Linked DNA regions of Homo sapiens: region 1 is reported to be linked to region 2. The links are microRNA targets in miRTarBase. Many come from high-throughput screens and were not tested one by one. Region 2 holds a microRNA gene; the other region holds the end of a gene's coding sequence.

Region 1 (3,109 bases), not on the chromosome of region 2:
CCAGCTGCTCAGGAAACTAAGGCAGGAAGATTGCTTGCACTTGGGAGGTTGAGGTTGTAGTGAGCTGTGTTCGCCTCACTGTATTCCAGCCTGAGTGACACCAAGACCATCTCAAAAAAAAAAAAAAATCACTCGTTATGAAGACATAAAAATATTACAAGCCATTTTCTTTTTAAATGTTTTCTTGTAGAAGTGGGGTCTCACTATGTTACCTAGGCTGGCCTCGAACCCCTGGGCTCAAGAGATCTTCCTGCTTCGGCCTTCCAAAGTGTTCAGATTACAGGCGTGGGCCACTATTCCTCTTTAATAAAACTGTATTTTTGTTTGTTTTTAGACAGGGTCTCACTCTGTCACCCACGCTGGAGTGCAGTGGTGTGATCTTGGCTCACTGCAGCCTCTGCCTACCAGGTACAAGTGATTCTCCTGCCTCAGCCTCCCAAGTAGCTGGGACTACAGGCATGCGCCACCACACCTGGCTAATTTTTATTTTTTTTAGTAGAGACGGGGTTTCACCATGTTGGCCAGGCTGGTCTTGAACTCCTGAGCTCAAGTGATCTGCCTGCCTTGGCATCCCAAAGTGCTGGGATTACAGGTGTGAGCCACTGCGCCCAGCCAATAAAACTATATTCAAAAACCATTGTTTGTAGGCAAGAATCATCCCCTTTGCCTCTAACTTCTGACTGCATTGTCCTCATAAGGGGAAGAAATCCTGAAAACACTATTTTCTTACCTGCACTGACTTCGAGGCTTGTACTGACAAGCTTTCTTCAAAAAAGTAATCTCTAGCCTGAGCAACACAGTGAGATCCCATCTCTTAAAAAGAAAAATAAAAAAAAAAATAGCTGGGTATGGTGGCAAGCACTGGTAGTCCCAGATACTCAAGAGACTGAGGCAGAAAAATCGCTTGAGCCCAGGAGTTGGAGGCTGCAGTGAACCACGATTGAGCCACTGCACTCCAGCCTGGGTGATAGAGTGAGATCCAGTCTCAAAACAAAACAAAACAAACAAAAAAAAAGCCATAGAGAATTATGTCTATAATATAGGATCCCACATACCTGAATCCTTTCCTGCTCTAACCAAAGACCACATGTGACCACTAAGGCAATGTGTGTACTGATGAGAAACTGCAGCAAAGGAACACTATTCTAGGAGTTATGCTAGATTGGCACCTAGTAAAACCTTCTCAAGTTTTCTCCATATCCTCATCGAATACTCTAGTCAAGCAGCCTCGATTGCGCCCAGGCTGTCTTTAGCCTAGGCTCTGCAGGCCTGGGTGGTCTTCCCAATCCCACAGATGACAGCTTACCATTCTACTATGAGGAAGGCTGTCTCAGGTGAGCCAGGGCATTGGTCCCAAAGGCATGGGTAGAAATGGAACACGGCCCATCTCAAATCTGTTCAACTCAGAGCAAAGGGAAGCACTCTAGCCCCAACCTGGTAGCTGAAAGCAGGTGTCCTAAGGAAGGAGGGTGGTCACGTCGTGTCTGCAGAGGCAGAAGCCTCTGAGAAAAATCTTTCCTGGTCTGTTACATGGAGGCCAGATGGAGACGGTTGGTCTTGTGCCCAAAGGAAGCCGATCTGAGCTGCCTTTCCACTCAGGTTAGTTCAGACGAAGAGCAATGTGTGGAGAGGATCCACCCGCCCGAAAGCTCCGCCCCCAGTACTGCAGCCTTAATAGTCCTGTAATCGGACCAATTTTTATCCGCACTGGGCCACAATACAGGCTCGTATTTAAGGGAGCCAAGATCCAACAGGTTTCACCACTGTAGCATATTTAGACTACCCTCTAAGAGGAACTCTATGCGAACAGCATAACTTCAACAAACAAAGTAGGCTCCCAACAATGTGTGAAAAACTGAAGCAGGGTAAACATTTCAGTGAGGGTCAGTATGGCACTGATTCACTTTACAAAAAGATGCAAACTGCGCAAGTACAAAAACCTCTTTGAGTCCTTTATTAACGTCTGGAGATGTGTGGTACATACAATTAACAGCATCACACCAGCTACAGAAGTACAGATAACCAAGAATGTACTTCAGAACAAGGATCTGAGAGCAACTTATGGTGTTGCCTGCTCTGAACCTCCACAAAAACCCAGTTCTGACACACGCAAGACAGACGATATAACAATTTCACTTGGGAATGGTTTTTTTTAAAAAATGACAAGAACTAATAGTTCAAACCCTTTAGAGTGTGAGATGTGGCAGCTCGCTTGGTGCCGTGGCACTGCTGTAAAAGGCCAACATGGGCATTTGAAGGTCAGGCAGAAGAACCGAATGGGGTGGGTGGAAGAGGTTTTATTTTCAGTGTAGAGAGATAACAGATGGTCCGAGTGGATACTTTCAGTCCAGGCTCAGTATGGGGCCTGCAGGAATCCACTAGATAAATACAGTCTATAAACCGGAAGGCTGAAAAACACCAGCCAGCCATCCTTGTCATTGCTTCCAACTGGTGGACACTGATGCATCCGGAGTCACTTATGACACAGATCAGGTTTAACAGGGGTGCACCCGAACGCAAGAAGGCAGCTCACTATGTCCAGTCAGCTCTGATCCTTTCACGCCCTTGGATGTCATGGGTTCCTCTGCTTTCACACGGGAACTAAGGAACACTTCCTTTATTTCAATGTTCCACTTTGGAAAAAACCAAAACCCTCCCCCCACCCCCACCATCATTCTTCATAAATTTGCTTCCAATCTCCTGATTGTTCTGGGTCTAGACTTTTTCCTTTCGCTTCAATTTGGACACTTTTTTGACAGTCCCGTTCTTGTTAAGCAGCTTCAGGACACGGTCTTTATGATCTAAAACCTTAAGCATGGAGTCTCTGGCTTCACTGATTTGATCCATCACAAGTTTACACCTCTGCATATTTCCCTGAAACAGAAGACATTGCATCATCAATCAGTGACCATGAGGATAGTACAGCTTTTAAAAAACTGCTTGCCTTTGGGCAGAGGCCATGTTGAGGCTTCCACAACAGAGAAAATGTCTTTTTGTTTCTCAGGAGTGCAGGCTGAAGCACGTATGTTTTTACTGAAGATATGAGGGAGACGGGGGGAAACGGGAGAAGTAGGGCTTTACAGAAAGCAACTTCATAAAGTAGATGATC
Region 2 (3,211 bases):
TTATATCAAATATCATGTCTTAAGTTTCAATTTATGATAATTTAATTTACATTCTTTAAACATGATAATTGTAGAAGCCAGGACTCAAAAGGATCATTTGGGCTTCCTCCCCTTTTTTCCAAAAATTTTAATTAAAATTTGAGTCCACCTAACAAGCCACCATAAAATAAGCATTATTACTGTTCCGTTGAATGCAGATTATTTGAATTGCAAGATATCCAGTGTACCTGTCACTTAGACTTTGTGCACTCTTATTTCATTTTGGAGTGAAGCATAAATCATAAGACACCAGATCCTCAGTAAATATCATGGCATTAACTGCCAAATGTAATGAAACGATTATATTTACCATCGCAAACTTCTTATGAGATTCTGATTCCATTTCCACTAAGACACATTATTTATAAGTTGAAAAGTTCATTAAAAAGTGTACATCACAACATAAGGATTAATCCAAATGTTGTAATGATTGTCCTTGAGGATCTCCATGATTAGTTTTTCATTCACTTTTACGTGTGTACCTCGCTACTACCATTTTATATGGCACTCTACATATTACAGTGATAAAAGAAAATCTGTCTTGCAGAGAGTTCATCTTTTTTTTTTTGGAGATGGAGTCTCGCTGTCTCCCAGGCTGGAGTGCAGTGGCATGATCTCGGCTCACTGCAAGTTCCGCCTCCCGAGTTCATGCCATTCTCCTGCCTCAGCCTCACCGAGTAGCTGGGACTACAGGCGCCCGCAACCATGCCCAGCTAATTTTTTGTATTTTTACTGGAGATGGGTTTTCACCCGTCAGGTGAAATGGTCTTGACTTCCTGACCTTGTGATCCGCCCGCCTTGGCCTCCCGAAGTGCTAGTATTACAGGCGTGAGCCACCACACCCGGCCTTGAGAGTTCATCTTTTAAAGGAATCAAGAACTTAATTTGCACTATGCATCTTTTATTACATTGGTTTTCTTGTGAGACCACCGTGCTTCAAAATATTATTTATAAAATTTTACAAAGCATGACAATTCCCATCACATCATGCTATTTTTTCAATAATTCCCATAATAAAGAAAGAAGGAAGAGAGCTTAGTTTTATAAATATGTATATTAATCTTAATTGGGATTACTCTTTCTTTCCTTCTTGGTGATCTTTACTTTTGCAGGAATTCACCATTTTGGCTGTAAGTAAAAGTGTCTGATCTGAAACATAATACCCTCCCTTTTCAATCCTGATGTACCTTCTTCTAGTCTTGGTCTTTGGCACCTTTTTTTCAAGAAGAAACCACAGATCTTTTGAGCTTCTCTGTTGTCCTTGTAGCTCACCTTCAACTTCTTCCTGGATGTTGTTCCCGAAAGCTGTTGTTTCCATTCTGCAGTTCTGAGGAATGGTGGAGGCACCTTTTCCATATAGCCCCTTCTTTGTGTTTCCAGGAAATCATCGGTAGTAATACTCTTACTGTGGTCATAAACATTCTGCGGGAAGAATGCATGTCATGTAAACAGTATTACGTTTCCAGAACGTCTGTAGCTTTTCTCCTCCTTCCCTCCATTTTCCTCTTGGTCTTACCTTTGGCCTAGTGGTTGGTGTAGTGATAATGTAGCGAGATTTTCTGTTGTGCTTGATCTAACCATGTGGTTGCGAGGTATGAGTAAAACATGGTTCCGTCAAGCACCATGGAACGTCACGCAGCTTTCTACAGCATGACAAGCTGCTGAGGCTTAAATCAGGATTTTCCTGTCTCTTTCTACAAAATCAAAATGAAAAAAGAGGGCTTTTTAGGCATCTCCGAGATTATGTGAGAGGGAGAGAATAGTAAAAAGTCCATAGAAAATTTAAAAGCCTGAGTATATCTATTTGCCTTGAAAGCCCTAATTTACAATGAGATATAGGATCATGTTTATTACTGGATATATTTTCAATTCTTGACTCCGAGAAAAAAAATAAACTTTTTAATAATTAATATCCATTGTGTGACTAGCTGTGAAGTAGGCTAGAATGACTCAGAATTGGATCAGCAGAAAGTACAGCTGTGAAAAGCTCAACTTTATTAATGTTTTCCTGTCATGTGAATCTGGTCACTCTTTTTTCCAGAAAATTCCAAGCCTTTCTTTTAACCTTTCTCCTGACATCCATTGACCAAAATACCCCAAGTTGTCTCCCTGCTACATAATCTATAGTTATCTTACTTTTTTCTTCCTACAAACTAATAAATTTTCTAACCTTTAGACTCAGTATCTTTTTTTTGGTTTGAATTCTCAATAGGTACAGAAGATTATCGATCAAAATTAAGTGGAGACTGCTTTGCGGATCTGGCTTGCCCTGAAAAGTGTCGCTGTGAAGGAACCACAGTAGATTGCTCTAATCAAAAGCTCAACAAAATCCCGGAGCACATTCCCCAGTACACTGCAGAGTTGTAAGTTCATCCCCCAACAAAATTCTGGTTGGGATGGAGGGAATGAAAGCATTAAAGCATAAGAATGTTTGTCTTGCCATTTTTATTATTAATAATTGCATTAATTTTAATTAATATGCATTACATTGGCATAACTCTATTTTGTACAAGAATATATTAGAGGCTACCTTCATTCATCTTTCTAGCCAACCATACGATTAAGTACAGAAACTAATTTATCTCTCAAAATTCAGTAAGCACTTCATACTAATAACAATGGTATTTATTTGATGCTTATTTATTGGGTATTATTTATTCCCAATTTGTTTTCTAAGTACTTAGTTTTTAACGTATTTAATTCTTATAGCAACTAAATAAAGTAGTTTGAGAGCCTCCATTTTCAATCTCTGTAAACTATCAATAGATTCAAGGAGTCTGTCTTACCTAATTTACTACTTCATTGACTTACGGGCAGAAGGATTCAGTGGTTATCAAGTATTAAAGTAGAAAGGATAGCTTTTTCTGAACAATGCAAGAAAAGCTGAAAAGGCAGAATATGATGGTATTTACACTTAACAGCCTTAACATAGGACCTTGCACATACTAAGTGCTAAGGTGTTTGTTGGAGCACTTACAGATTCTATGCCCATGCATGGTTTGCCTTTACTGACTTTATTTATAAGAAGAGGACCTTTAATGTTAGTGTTCTAACAATTCAGGGAAAAAACTAGCAAAACCTCATCATTCTCTAAACATCTTAGCCATGTTTATATATAGCACCATCTGGTATTTGTCATTTACTGCTTTGCAAAGTTCGTTGTCTGTTTGTT

What was found. The annotated mature microRNA hsa-miR-218-5p reads UUGUGCUUGAUCUAACCAUGU and lies in region 2 at 1,602-1,622, shown strand. An mRNA with a match to its seed (bases 2 to 7 or 8) in the 3' UTR can be bound and repressed. Matches are read on the target gene's strand: a 7mer-m8 pairs with bases 2 to 8, a 7mer-A1 pairs with bases 2 to 7 and ends in A, and an 8mer does both.
Region 1: miRTarBase lists SAP130 as a target of hsa-miR-218-5p. The part of its 3' UTR that is shown has no 7-base or 8-base seed match.

The regions. Positions count from the first base shown.
Region 1 is chr2:127,939,291-127,942,399 of GRCh38, forward strand. SAP130 (Sin3A associated protein 130) reads right to left here. Exons shown (of 21, transcript NM_001330301.2): 21 at 1,932-2,874. The coding sequence ends at 2,716. Among named protein-coding and RNA genes, the nearest start is that of AMMECR1L, 55 kb to the left of the region's middle.
Region 2 is chr4:20,526,698-20,529,908 of GRCh38, forward strand. MIR218-1 (microRNA 218-1) reads left to right here and starts at 1,578; the gene lies at 1,578-1,687. SLIT2 (slit guidance ligand 2) reads left to right here. Exons shown (of 37, transcript NM_004787.4): 16 at 2,252-2,402.